2 linked regions of the Homo sapiens genome follow. The protein of the gene in region 1 interacts with the protein of each later gene in a biochemical or structural test. Each region holds a gene or a part of one and is shown on either strand. Other genes may lie near its edges.

Region 1 (7,017 bases):
AAATTATTTAATCTCTCAAATTGGAAGTCTAGCACTCTTGAAAATCAAATTCACACACACACAGACACACACACACACACTTACAAACTGCACATTAGGACATGAGGGCAATTTAATGGAAAAAGAAAATAGAAACTGAAAGGGCATTTGTAAAATGTAGGATATCATTTGGACAACTGGATAGAGTAGGCAGAAAATCCTAAAGGTGTACATAAAAAAATAGCCAGTAAATGATAGGCTACAGAAAACCACACTGAAACATTTGATGAATTTCACTGCAGTAAACAGACTTGGCAAACTGAAACACTAGAACCATGACTACAAGCCTCACTTCATTCCACACAAATAAAATCTCTAACCATTATAAGCACAGATGAGAATCCTCATGCAACAGAGGAAATATAAATTATTTTTAATTTTAAAAAATAAAAAATATAAATTCTTGTTAAACACTTGATTTAAAAATATGCAGCTTTATTTTTAAATGTAGTTATGCTCAAAGATGGCAGTTTACTTATATGTAAAAATGTTTTAAAAATATCAATATATTGGTTTATAAGTTCTATACTGCCCTCAGCTAAATATTTTTCACCAAAATTCTCAAATAACTATCAAAAAGAGTTGCATGTTTTTATAAGCCCACTATAATTACTAAACGCGGTAATTTTCAGAGCTAAAGGTGAATCATTAATGAAATATTTTTTGATGTGATAAAAGTCACATGAGCATTTGAATTTAAAGACAACTGATAAGCCAACAGCAGCCTTTTTTTGGCAGGTGTTAAATTAATTTGCTCTAAATTGAGCAACTGTTTGGGAACTACAAAAACTGAAAAGTTCAAACTATAAGGAAGTAGAAAGGTGATGAAGTTTACTAATACAGTGTTTCACACATTCTATTTAACACAATTCCAAATGCAAATGTTTAAGATGATTTTTGAAGAGAAACATCTACAATGTTAAGCTTGTCTATGCTAAACAAATGTAACTTTAATTTACATGTATCATCCTAATGTCAACAATATTTAGACATTCATGATTAAGCCACTGAATTCGAAAGGATTCTCAATAACTACATGTAATCTGCATCTGTGGCATTAGAAAGTAATCAAATCACTGTCCGTTTTCTGATGCAATGGAACATCCTACAAATTCATGACAGATATACTAAGCTAAAAAGCTTTGAGATCAGGTACAGTATAAATTTCATTTTTAAAGAATATACATGGATATACAGAAGAAAACATGATTGTATAGTCACTAACATATTAACGATGGCTATGTCTCCAGGTGATAGGATTATGAGTGATTATTTTATTGTTGTTGTGATGGGGAAGTAGTCTCAAAATACCTAGCTTAACAACCAGAGTACTACCACCAAAGCAAACTATTTTGTCCTTTCCTGTCTTCACATTACAAACTTTTTAAAGCTACCAACCAATATGAATTTGTCTGACTGGCTACCCACATTCTGATATACATATTAGAAGGAAGATCTTTTGGAAGATGGAAAAACAGCAAGATTATGGTCATAAAAGAATAATATGCTCTCAAAAATAAGCAACAATCATTAGGCTTTCTATAGCCACATACAATTAATTCTATAAGAAAGTTGGCTCCAACATTTCATCTTTAAAAGACTTTTTCCATTATCCTGTTTCCTGGTTTTCAGGTACTGTCCTTACAACAGTTTGGACTGAATATTCTTGTTTCCATTCACAAACATTTCTTTCTGAACTAGCAACAGCACTAATCAATAGCTACACTTAAGCCATTTAAGACTAAGCTTTAGATGTGTGTCTAATTATCTGGCAAAAATAAAAGAACCAAAGAGTTTCATGTTAGCAGCAAATTAACTAGATTTAAGGGTCTTGATTTTTTTCATAAGCCTTTGGAAGCCTGCATATTAAACACTGGTGAGTTTTAAATTCTCAATGGAAATGGTGATGGCATTTACTGAACCAAGCCAGCTCATATTACAACGTACAAAGGACATGATATAAAAACAAAACTAGCACATTTCTATTTTTCAAACATCACCAAAATGTCTTCTTATAAATTAGAATACTTTTAGACTCCAGTATAGTTTTCAACCATACGTATACCCAAGATACCGAAAAATAAAATGTGTGTACACATACACTTCATATTTTACATTATTGCACATTTTTTCATTTACTTTTTAAAAAATTACATGGAGAAAATGTAAACTTGAAATAATAAGTCCCACTGTAACATTGTCTACTTTATTTTTTTAACACTTGTACAAACTACACTTTCTTATTACCTTACTATGCTTTGTTGAAAGGATATGCTTTAGTCTTCAAGCTTTTAAGAATATTAGAAACAACATGATTAAATTCAAGTACAAAAAGTCCTTTAGACTATTCCGAAATATCAATTTTTATATGGCACAAGTCATGATGAGTAAATGAAGCTTTCCATATGCTGATGGCAGAGTACAGAATAATAGACAAAAGCCACAAAATTGAAATCTAAAGTATCAAATCCATTCTGGGGAATTATCTTCAAACATCTGTCATAATAAAAATATGCACAATTTTCTAAGAATCTTGGACTTTTTCAGGACTAGAACGCTATTTAATGTGCTTATACAATTTATGAAGTGATGACTAAAGCCCTAAAAATAAGTGTTTTTCCTTAATTAAACATGAGTAGACAGATACTCTACTCTCAGGCCATGTTTTTTTTTTTTTTTTTTTTTAAACAGTAGGCTTTGAAGGACAGCAGGAAAAAAAAAAACTGAAAACTTTGTATTCACATTTGGCTGCCCATTAATTAAAACTTCAATGGACTTAAGCAATTTGAATTATAAACTCTCATTTAATAAAACACCCACACAATGACAAGAATGAGACTTTAATCAGTTTTAAGTGGAGTTTATAACACTAAGAGATAAAGGGTTGTTAACAAACACAATAACAAATGGACATCTGATTGGGATGAGGCATTATCCTGTACACATCATATTGGTATTTTTGTGTATCCTCAGTGCATAGCATTTACACACAGAGCCACTGCTGCACAGCACAAGAGTATCTGAAGAGGCTGAATCAGAGTAAGGCTGTTTAACAGACTGAAATTTTTTAGTATATATATTCTATATGAAAACAGGTTGAACTTTTGAACTGGCAGGTAGAAGGCAACTCTGCCAAATACTACAGTTAAAGCCCCCACTTTAGTGCACAGTTCCACCCCTTCCATCTGCATGCATGACACATTAACAGTATTTAAAGGTAAACGAGGCACTTTGTGGCAACCACAGCCATCGTTATGAACATATTGCACAAAATTTCTAGAACTAAACATTAAACTTGTACCCTACTTTTATTTTTTAAAGCTGAAACATTTGATGCTGCCGGTAAACTCCACTTAAGTTTATAACCTGTGCCACAGCAAAGAATGGTGATGCTATTTATTCAACTACCCTTTTAAAAGTATGGCAAACATGTTCAAGAGGAGCTACAAAGGACTTGGGATGGTACAGGGCCCAACTGTAAGCTTTCTTAAAAGTGATGCCTTCAAGTAACTTCAGACATGTAAGCTGCTGCACATCCAAAAAGTCTAAGAAAATATTCCAGAAACTCAGAGATTACCTACAGAATGCATTTCAGGCTAATTATGAATACTGCCATAAATAAAGTTTTAATTAGGACTCGAAAACCTTTCAGTCATAGCAATTCTTGTCAAATTCTATGGGGATGGTAACTGAAATAAAGTAAGGAGAGTATGTATAATATATATTTATATATATAATATATATAATGCCATTTTTCCATTTCCAATGACTACACCATAAAATGTAAGCAAGGCTTCTCAAAAACATTGAAACATTCAAAATCAAAACCCTCATTCAGACCTTCACATTCCAAAGGAAAAATAATAACAGTGCAAAAGCCCATTATAATGTCATTATTTATGACCTGGCCCTCCATGTTACATATTGGAACAATAAAGTTACGTTTTAATATGCGGTGCCCGAAATTGTAACAAAGAACAATATTTATAACTATCTTCAAAACATGAAGTTGATTTTCATTTTAGGTAACAATTTTCAGCTTTTATGAAAGACAAGGTGGCATATAAATTTCAATGGTGAGGTGTTAGAATAGTTGTCTCTAACTTTACCAATTTAACTTATGAGCAATCAATCAATACTCTATATATCAATGTTTAAATATAAATGTGTAAATCCTAAGAGCTTTGTTAAAAATTTAAAAATTGTTGAATGAAACTGACAAGGTATGGAAAACGTGTCAACATTATTTACTAAGAATATTTTAGATGAAGTTCTGCCTAATCTATTTGCCATCAAACTCTATAAATGCTGCTCTAGTAGGTCCTATTCAATCTGTATTTGTAAATTAACTAGGTCAGACCACAGCTAGTGAACAATTTCAGCACCAATAAGTTATTGAAAATGGAATTTTATACCATTAAGAAACAAAATGGCTGGATATTCAAATGTCAAGGTGAAGGTATAATTTGAAGACACCAAATTTCTGGAAAAAAAAACCTTTTTAATAATATCTTCACATTAGCTTTACAATAGTAGTTGTACTCCGCTTAAAATCGTATGCAGTCTGGGCATATCAAATATATGATGATTTTTTTTAAGAAGTGAAATTGAAGCCCTAGTCCCAACTCGGGGGAGCACTATGAAGAAATGATTCAACACTGCACATTTAAAAAAAAAAAAAAAAAAAAAAAAAAAAACCCTATTCTTTCAATAGCAAATCAATAAAGCACATGTAGGACAATTTCTACTGAAAAATCAAATGTCTTTTTTTTGTGTGCAGCATTGAAAGTTTACTGCAACTCTAATTTCCTTTTTAACACAAATGTCCTTTTTAATATAAACATTATATGTATTCAGTATTCAAGTAAAATTCCCTAACAGTTAATGACATTTAAAAAATGTGCAAAACTGCAAAATTCATTGTAATAGAATGTGTAAGGTCAAAAGGGTGGAACGGCTGACAGCTATTGAATAAGTGCATCATAAATCTTCAAAGAAAAAAAACGCTTACTGTAGAATCTCAAATTGAAAATTTCTGTGCAGCATTACAAAATATTTTATATTTAATGAGAAAAAAGAAGCTTGCAGGCAGCACATGAAGCATCCACAGCAGGTATTATGATTGAAAACTAGTAAAATAAGTGTAAGTTGTTGACTGATGTAGGTACTAACAGCATCTGAATTTTAGCACTGGCCTTGATTACACAGGAGATGGAGAAGTCGTTACAATTGAGAAAACATATTTAATAAATCATTGTCAATTTTTATAATGTTTCAAGCCCATTCTTTGTTGATAGCCTCCACATTTATATGGTTAAGTCATTGTTGCTGTGTTTCTTACCTATGACATTATTTTTATATCCCTTCATTTGTGGATCTTAAGATGTTGCAGAAGGTTCATTCCTGTACCCCAATACAGATTCACTTCCTTTAGCTGCCTTTTCTAGCACCAATATGCTTTAAAAAAAAATGCGCAAACAACAAGCAGTGACAGCGGCCAATTCCTCGAATGTCCAGATTAATAACTGTAGCATGCTAAAGAAAGGTGTGTGTAAATAGCTGGAGATGGTATATGGTCCAGAGTCCAGCATAAAATTATTTCCTTTCTGAGCATTCCCTCCATTCCCCTAACCCGAATACATGCATTAGAATGTAGCAAAACCCTTCGGAAACCTCTCTTAGCCAACTGCAAACTTATCTGTTGCCACAAGTGCAAAGGGGTAGGATGTGAACCAGTATATCACAAAGCTCTTTAGCCACTTCAGTTGGTGACAGAACACAAAAGGAAAAAATTCCTACGTATACACATCAGTCTGTCTCCACTTTTTATAAAACTGGAATAAAACGGGAAAGTGCCATCTTTATTAATCCTAATTGAATTTTAAATGTCCTTTTGACACAAAAAGGTATATACATGACACAGCTACACAACCTTTTTTCAACTGGACAACAAGTGTCAAAACCCTGTGGATGTATAGGGTAAAACAAGATTGGTCAGGAAAAGAGAATTGTTCCTATAACTGGTAATCTGACACAATGTCCTATTGCCATTAAAAAAAAAAAGGTCCATTTTCAGTTTATTCAAGTTTATTTTCATGGTGTTTTATCCCTCTTGATAAAAAAAAATTCAGACTTTTGTAATTTGTGTATGCTGATCTTCATCAAAAGGTTCATTCTCTGGATCAGAGTCAGTGGTGTCAGAATATCTATAATGATCAGGTTCATTGTCACTAACATCTGGTGTTACAGAAGTTGAACTGCTAGCCTCTGGATTTGACGGCTCCTCTACTGTTTTTGTGAAGTACAGCTTCACCTAGAGAAAGAAAATTTAAAATGAAAACCCACAAATATGACTCATCTTAAACTATTTAGTGAAATATATTTTTAACAGATTTTTTATTCCATTTTGCAGATGAACATATTAATTTTTAAGCACTGTAACAAACATGATCTTTAAGAGGCCTTTTAAATGACCCTCTTCTTAAGATGTTCAACATTTTCTTTCTTGCTAGGTACTAAACAGATAAACTATCAGGATGTTAATACAATTTATTTATTTTTATTTCTGGAGACAAGAGTCTTGCTCTGTTGCCAAGCTGGAGTGCAGTGGCATGATCTTGGCTCACTGCAACCTCTGCCTCCCGGGTTCAAGCAATTCTCGTGCCTTAGCCTCCCAAACAGCTAGGGCTACAGGTGTACACCACCATGCCCAGATAATTTTTTGTATTTTAGTAGAAATGGGGTTCATGATGTTGCCCAGGCTGATCTCAAACTCCTGAGCTCAGGCAATCTGCCTGCCTCAGCCTCCCAAAGTGCTGGGATTACAAGTGTGAGCCACCACGCCCAACCTCAATTTTATTTTTTAAGGAATATAAGTGGCAAATATTAACTAAATAATTATACAAAATAAATGCAGATTGAAAGTCATCAATAGTTTACATAATATAGCATTTGAATTACAAAATTCAATTCACAAAC
Region 2 (7,956 bases), on another chromosome or scaffold:
CCTTCAGGGCCACGCGGTTCCGGCGGATGGCCATGATGGCATTGCGAATGTCCTCTTCATCAGCATTGGAACTCACGTGCACCTCTTCAAAGTCCACTGGTACACATGCGTGCCTGAGGCACGGCAGGGTCAGGGAGGCTGGCCCAGACCCCCCCGCACCTCCTCCAGGAAGCCTGCCCAGGCTACCTCTCTCCTGTTGCTACCTGCCCTGACCTGGCTCTGACTGAGAAGGGACTGGGCCCACCTTCACTGACTGATGGGGACACGCTTGAACTCCACAATGCACACTGTGGCAGGACTGGTGCCACCTTCCCCGAGCCCAGGCCAGTCTGGCGGGATCACAGGCCATGGGACGCAAGGCCTGGGCTTACAGGTCGTCTTGCCATGGCCTCACCGAGTGCTTCTGGGCGCAATGCCCCTCTTGGCACAAAGTCCTCAGGGCCCCCTGGCTGAGGACAAGGCGGGGACCCAGGAGCTCCATACCTGAAGACGGACTTGACATGCAGCATGAGCTCTGGCCCGATGCCATCCCCTGGGATCATGGTCACCGTGTGCCGCCCGCCATACTTAGCGGACGGAGGCTGTGGGAGGCAGAGGGTGAAGGTGGGCCTTCGGGGATCCCACATGCCCCCAGCTCGGCCCCCATGGGCTCAAGCCAATTCCCTTCTTCCCACTGGCGCTGACCCCACAGGCTGCCCCGTCACAAGGTGCCAACTTGGGGCAGCCCCGTCCCAGACAGGGCTGCTCATCCAGGGCTCCTGGGTCAGCAGCAGCCCACCCCCACCTGGAATTTAGTTAACCCCAAAGCAACTAAGAGCCCCCCAAACCTAACAGGCAGAGAAGAATACTCACAATTGTTTGTTCCTAGAAAGGATGAGAAAGGAAGAAGACACAATCAGCCAAGGTTCCAAGAGCAAGGCCGTGACCAGGAAAGTGGGACCTTTTCCCAGGGGGATGCTGGCTAGTACAACTCCCAGAAGAGGGGTGGGTAGCCCCTGGAGACCACGTCTCAGAGGACAGGACACAGGCCGTGCACACACGCGCACAATTGCGGCCACATGGAGAAAGACACATGCGTGGGCACGGGCAGGTACTTACTGAAAAGATGTTCCTCGAGGGGACCTCGTGGGCGCCTAGAACCTGGCAGAGACCAAATGCCAGCGGTTGGTTTGATGTCTAACCCAGAAAGCCAAGTTGGAAGGAAAAACGGACCGTCCCCACTGTGCCCAGGCAGGTCCCCTGTCTGTGCAGCATGGCCCACTGCCAGGGGCACAATAGATAATTAGCTCCAAAGCCTCAGTCCCCAGGGCCGGCCCGCTGGAGCACCTGGAAAGTAGAAGGCGCTCCAGCCTCCTGCCTCCTTCCGCTCTTCAGAAAATTTCTTAAAAGGCGTGTCCCTGCCCTCCCTCCTCTTTTTTGCTTCTGATTATTTTTTTGGCCAGTTATTCCCGCTCAGCGATGTTTGTAACATGCAAAAACTGGCAAACTAACCCTGGTACAGCAGGGAAATCATTACAACAAACCACAGATCCATGACAACAGTCACGTTATCACTTCGCCGATCACTTTTTCTTATTACAAAAGCAGCATGTGGTCGCTACAGAAAAAGCAGAATAGGGAGATAAGAAGGTAGCACCCAGCCTCCGGCCTCCCTGAGACAAGCACTGCTGGCCCCCTGGGGAATGGCCCTTCGGCATTAGAAATCGAAAACAAATGTGTAGGGACATCCAGCCATTTCTGGAAGGTTGATAACAGAAACCCAACTCTAGGAAGGCCTTCGGAAAGGACTGCTGGATGCCGAATGTCCCCAACGCCCTGACTGGAAATGCCGGACAGCTTCAGAGCCAAAGCTGCCTGAGCCAAATGTGCCAGGTGCCAAGTGACCTGCTGTCCTGGAAGAAGCCCCACCTAGAACACACCTGAGACGGTGGCAGAGCCAAGGTCTTCCCTGTCACTTGGGGATGCCCTGCCACTTGACCACCAGGCAGCAGCAAAGTGTTCCAGCCAATGGCAGAAGCATCATAGCCATTGGCCAAAGAGCCATGCCTTCCAGCTAGAAGTCCAGAAAGGCTCGGGCGGAGTCTGACCTCTCCCTGTCTGTGTGTCCCTGGCCGGCACTCATCAGTCCAAGCCAGGGGCTAGGAGAGGGTGCCCACAAGGACCAGAGCCCCGAGGATAGCTCAGCTGATCTGTGTGGCACCTGGATCTGCAAGCACAGGCACGGTCGGGACTTTTCTGTCTTCTCTCTAGCGCTTATCAACGGGTCGGGACTTTTCTGTCTTCTCTCTAGCGCTTATCAACATCTGAAATCATCTTATTTGGGGGCTCTTGTAAGCACGCAGAAAGCGGCTTCGATGGACCTTCCTCCAGGGAGCTTTCCCTGATGCCCTAAGGCTACTGAGCTGGGACCCTAAGGCCCTACTTACCCCCTTCCCTAGGTTATCACTGCATTGCTCCCTCCTCAACCCCTGAGCCCGAGAGGAGGGGCCAAGTCAGTGTGGTCCAATACTGTCACCCTAGGACCCAGCACAGTACCTGGCCCAGAGCTGGCACATAAGGAACATTTCCTGAGTGAACAAGCACATCAGAAAATGAAAAAAGATCTGGAGACTAGGGAGGCCTCGGTCCAAATCCACCATCCACTCTTCTTGAGATGGCTTCATGGCCTCATCTGAAATTCACAGAACGGAGGTACCTACTTTCCGTGACTGTTGGAAAGATTAGGGGACAGGAGGTGTGTGAGCTGCTCACAGTAGCTAGTGCCACACAGCACGCCTGCCCCTTCACCCCACTGGCCCCTCAGGTCAGAGTTCAAGGCTGGTGTCCCTGGGAGGTCACGGGTGGACCCCTGCAGCTCCCAGCAGTAGTTCCTCCTGGGCTTCAGCTGTGGCAGCAAGCCAATCTCCTGAGAGCATGGACCTCCCTCACAGATGGCAACATCACCACCAGGGCTGAGCTGAACCTCTCTGCCACCCGGTCCCTGTGCCAGGTGTTCCTTTGGGCTTTGGCAAAAGACCCAGAGAGCGCTCCAGATGGACTTCCCTGACCTTACTGTACAGATGCAGGCACCTTCCTTCAGGAGGTCGCAAAGGCTCTGCCTTGTGCCCTGACTTCCCTGTGAAGCCACCAATCAAAGGAGCCAAGTGTGAGGCAGGATGCAATATGTACACGCCTCCCGCTCTCCCATCACCCTTTCATGGTTCCATGGAAAGAAAGAACATCCACACCCCACATCTTATGCCTGCTGAGGCTTCTGTCTTTGGCATATTTCTGTTGGACCATGTGTCAATGGTGGCTGCATGTTTTCCTATGGCGTCCAAATCAGTGGGATTCAAGACCTGGGGTTCCTCTGTAAGGGTTCTCACACCCAGGACGGTCAGTCTCAGGGCAAGGCACTGCCCAGCTACCCACCGTTCACTGTCCCCTACTCCCACCCCAACGCACACACAGGCACACACACAGGGGAGGTCAGGGAGGAGGCACACATGTCTTCACCAAGAGCCTACAGGAGCCCAGTTGCTGGAGCCATCAGAGCCTCTGGAAAGCCACTATATACTGCCGTCCTTTCAGCAGCAAGGTGGGAGAAGTCAGCATCGTCAAGAGAATTTCATTAGGCACAAGCAGTCTCCCCCAGAGGTCAGAAGGAGAAAACATGGCAAGTAGAGATGTCCCTGGGGAGTGGCCGCAAAGTCACGGAGTTCTGGAAGGTCAGAGTTGACAGGATCCTTTGAGAACATGAAGTCTCCTCCCCTCTGGGTTCCAAAGGGGAAACTAGAACCCAGAGAGAGGAGGAAATGGCCTAAGGCCACGCAGTGGCTCAGTGTGGGAGCATGGCCTAGAGGTCAAACCTCTTACCCATCAGGGCCAGGTGCTGGCTGGCAGCTGCTTCAGATGGTTTCCAGCCCACCTAGGACCTAAATTAACCTCTTCTTAAATAAGTGTAAGGAAAGAAGACTCGGACCTGAATACGCAAGACCGCACACGGAGAAGAGCAGAAGCAAAACCCCCGCAGCCTCAGAAACCCTAGCTCCTTCCCATTCCAGGCGCCTCGAGGGGAAGGCATCTGGGGCTCTAAGACTGGGGGACTATGGGGGATGACTGGCAAAGTCCGGTTCTTTGCCACCGGGATAGGTGGCAAAGCGGTCCACGAGAGAGGAAACCGTGGAGAAATTTGAGTCCCGGAACCGGATTCCCGAAGCGGTTTGAGAAAGGCGGGCCGGGATACGTGAGTGACTGCCTCAGAAGGGCTCCTTCAAGGACACTAAGGAGGTGACAGCCGCCGTGGCCCACTCTCCCGGCCCGTCCGGAGGGCCCCCCGCCACCCGATGCAGACCCCCTGGGGGAGCCGGTCCAGGGCCAACTTCGGCCAATCCCCTCAGTGACAGCGGAGGCGGCCAATCAACCCCGGCGCGAAGCCCTTTCCCCGCCCCTGGTGGGGCCCCTAGCCAATCGGACTCCAGACTGCTTCGGGTGCGGCTACCCCACCGCTCCCCTGCGACCGCTGCCGCGGTCCCGTGGCTCTTTCCCTGCTCACCTCCCAGGGACGGCAGAGAAGGGCTGGCCCGAGCACCGCCTTCGCGGCGCTGCCGGCGACGGTCGCTACCTTCAGCGCCATGACGGAAAGTGAGAGCCTCCGCACGTCCCGACACGCAGATACCGCTCTCGCGAGAGTTCGACGGGGTGCGAAGTTTCGGGGACAGGCGCGGACCCGGTACTGCGCACGCGCGCGGTCGCACCGATTCACGCCCCCTTCCGGCGCCTAGAGCACCGCTGCCGCCATGTTGAGGGGGGGACCGCGACCAGCTGGGCCCCTGGCTCAGGGAGGGGCCACGTCAGTGCTGCCAGAGACGTCACAATGCCGGCCCAGCCGTTCGGTGCGCGATTGGCTGCCGCTGCCACTTACGCGTCGCTCTTCCTCGTTTGCCCCTCGTGTTCATGGGAGCTCGTTTTCTTTTCCTCTAGGCAGAGAAGAGGCGATGGCGGCGATGGCATCTCTCGGCGCCCTGGCGCTGCTCCTGCTGTCCAGCCTCTCCCGCTGCTCAGGTAGCGGCCCAGCCGGGGCTTCTTTCTTGCGAGCCTCTGACCCACGGCAGGTGGTGTTGGGGGCAGGAGGGATGCGGGGGTCCGGCCTTTCAGGGTCCGTCGCTGCGGGCCGGGCCTTCCCCCGAGAGGCAGGCGGCCTTGGGACGGGGGGACCAAAGCACCTCGCGCACGTTTACCGGCAGCCAGGCTTTTCCTTGTCTGCCCATACGAAGAGGAGTCCCCGAGCCTCCATGGTGCGCCCGGCCCCCAAGCTGCAGCACGGAACGTGACACATGTCCCGGCTCCCGCTCCCTGCGGGGTCGGACCGGAGCGAAGCTCTGTAGCGCTGAGCGATCGCGGCCAAAAACGGGGCTGGAGGAGCCACATAAGCTAGGAAGGGACCTCAGTGAGGAGAGGGAGCAAGAGCGGGGCGAGTTAGATGGGGAGCCAAAGGTGCGCAGGGCCTTGAGTGCCAGGCCGAAGACTGGCTTTTCCGGAGGGCCCTGCCTTACCCTTACCAGAGTTTTCGGCAGAGCCGACCAGGGGTCCCGTCGATTTGCATTCGTGAGGGGCTGAGGTCTGAACTCCAGAGTGTGTTTAGGAGGTGGCTGCAGCAGCCAGCCCCGGGCCCGGGGGCCAGGACTGGACAGGGGCGGCTTTCTCCACATTCCCTTTTCTGCCGTCCTTCAGGCCAGTAGCCTTGCTGCCTGCAACGTTTTGGCAGCCTAACTGGCCTCCCTTTCCGCACACTCCTCATCTGCCCCTCAGGAATTCCCTGAACTATAGTCAGGGACGTATCCAGAGGACAAGCCTGGCCATAAAACCCTTCGGGGGCTCCCCTGCGCCACAGGAAGCAGGCCCAACTTAGGCAGGACACAGAAGGGCTGGCGGGATCTAGCCCCTGAGAACTGCCTCCACGCTGTTCCTAGGGATCTGCCTCCTGTGGTCCAGACCCAGAGCCTTCTCTGACGTCCTCTGCTGAAGCCATCGTTCTGCCAGGGCACCACATTTGGACAGCGGGTGGCTGAGAACATTCCCACTTTGGGGAGCCTTTGTTTCACACCCTCTGATGTAGGCGGCAGCCTTCCTTTCCTTTGGGCCTCTGGTTATGGAGAAGGCTAAGGCAAGGTCCTTTCTCTCACAGCTAACAAGTTGTGCTTCTGGAACCAGAGTCTCTCCCGTTTACTTCTTCAGGAAACGCTGGGGCCAGTCTTCACCTTCTGTCAACTGGCCGGGGGCAGAGACCCTTTCTCTCATCTTGAAAGCCCCAGTGCATTGCCTGCCTGCAGCCCCCACCCCCGATGTCTCTGCTGAGGATGCCTTCAGTAACTCGTCCAGGCCGTTTGTGGCTCTGAATTGAGGCTGGCGTGGCCCCCGGGCCTCCGTGTCATAGGTCCAAGTGTTGGCATGTATTGTCCAGTGAATCCAGCCCCCACCTGTCCCCAGTTCGCTCTTCCTGCACACCTCCAGAAAGCCGGCCTTGCCCCTCCCCAGCCTTCCTTCACAGCCATCCCGCCTACGTTGCCATTGCATTTGTGACCGAGCACTTGGATCTGTCTCGCATATCCCACCTGGAAGGGGCAGGAAGAGCGCATGGGTCCCCAGCTGATCCGTGCTATGAGGCAGGGCCGGGCCATCCTGCCCTCAGACCGGGATACTCGAGCTGGCCTTACCCAGGCATCTCTCCCTCTTCCCCGCAGCCGAGGCCTGCCTGGAGCCCCAGATCACCCCTTCCTACTACACCACTTCTGACGCTGTCATTTCCACTGAGACCGTCTTCATTGTGGAGATCTCCCTGACATGCAAGAACAGGGTCCAGGTGAGACAGTGGGGTTTCAGACAGGAGGGCGGGTGGGGGGTGCTCCTCACTGCTAGTTGATGGGGGACCTGTGTCGATAGAGGGAGAATCAAGATTCCAACTCTTGGGGTGCCGGAGAGATCAGGGCACGGTGATGCCAGATCCTAGCCAGTGTTGACAGGTCACCTTCCTCACCTGCTTTGTGTGCTGTGCCTACACGAGGTAACCCTGGGCTCACCACCCGCTGTTTCCTGAATGAGTATCTGGACCGGGAGAAAGGGCCAGGAGTCAGCCCACCCCGGTTGCCATTGGCCAGTTTGTCTGTGTGGGTGTTTTGTTTTTGTTTTTGTTTTTTGTTTGTTTTTTTGAGATAGGGTCTCACTCTGTTGCCTCAGCTGGAGTGCATTGGCACGATCTTGGCTCACTGCAGCCTCCACCTCCCGGGTTCAAGCGATTCTCCTCTCAGTCTCCTAAGTAGCTGGGATGACAGGTGCTCGCCACCATGCCCAGCTAAGTTCCCATAAGTCCAAAGAAGGAAATGGGGCCTTTTTTGGGTATGGCCCTCTTAGGGTAAAGCACCCCTTGGGCAGCCCACTGGGCACCCCTGACCCCAGCACCTCCCTTGTAGACTCAGGAAATCACTCAGCCCTTTTGATCATCCCGCCCCTGCTCACAGTCAACAGGGTTCCTATGCGTCCAGTTAGGCCCGGCCATGGGGATCTGGCCTTGTGCCCCCGTAGGGAAGACCAATGCAGAGGGCCAGTCACGGGATTGGTGAGTGTTACTTGGTACCTCCTGCCAGGGACACTGCAGCCCCCAACTGGGCCTAGCCTGCCCACCTGCAGGCCGTGTGAGCAGCGCACAGGGCTCCTCTGCCCACACCCAGAGGGGGCAGAAGGTGACCCTGCCTTTGTTCCCTCACCCAGAACATGGCTCTCTATGCTGACGTCGGTGGAAAACAATTCCCTGTCACTCGAGGCCAGGATGTGGGGCGTTATCAGGTGAGGGGCCAATGGTTCCCTTGCTAGGGGGCTCCCTGCTCCCGGGTGTGACCTGAAGCCCCAGGGGTGGCCGGTCAACCAGGGCCAGGGGCCGTGGGCTCTGGCTGCCGGAGTGCTGCAGTGTCGGCACTGGTG

Evidence for each region. Proteins that work in one complex are often made in the same cells at the same time.
Region 2: the proteins of PTEN (region 1) and SSR4 form a complex in vitro, tested with the Homo sapiens proteins (2 studies listed by BioGRID).

Annotation. Positions count from the first base shown.
Region 1 is NC_000010.11:87,964,622-87,971,638, reverse strand, and holds part of PTEN (phosphatidylinositol 3,4,5-trisphosphate 3-phosphatase and dual-specificity protein phosphatase PTEN), read right to left. Parts: intron 6,353-7,017; coding exon 6,167-6,352; 3' UTR 1-6,166. UniProt on the Homo sapiens protein: Dual-specificity protein phosphatase, dephosphorylating tyrosine-, serine- and threonine-phosphorylated proteins.
Region 2 is NC_000023.11:153,789,712-153,797,667, forward strand, and holds the start of SSR4 (translocon-associated protein subunit delta isoform 2 precursor), read left to right. Parts: upstream 1-4,956; 5' UTR 4,957-4,962; coding exon of another isoform or gene 4,963-4,976; coding exon 4,977-5,043; intron 5,044-5,951; exon of another isoform or gene 5,952-6,145; intron 6,146-6,722; coding exon 6,723-6,841; intron 6,842-7,746; coding exon 7,747-7,821; intron 7,822-7,956. Other genes in the region: IDH3G (isocitrate dehydrogenase [NAD] subunit gamma, mitochondrial isoform a precursor), read right to left, coding at 1-113, 484-581, 853-864, 1,099-1,140, 4,535-4,615. UniProt on the Homo sapiens protein: TRAP proteins are part of a complex whose function is to bind calcium to the ER membrane and thereby regulate the retention of ER resident proteins.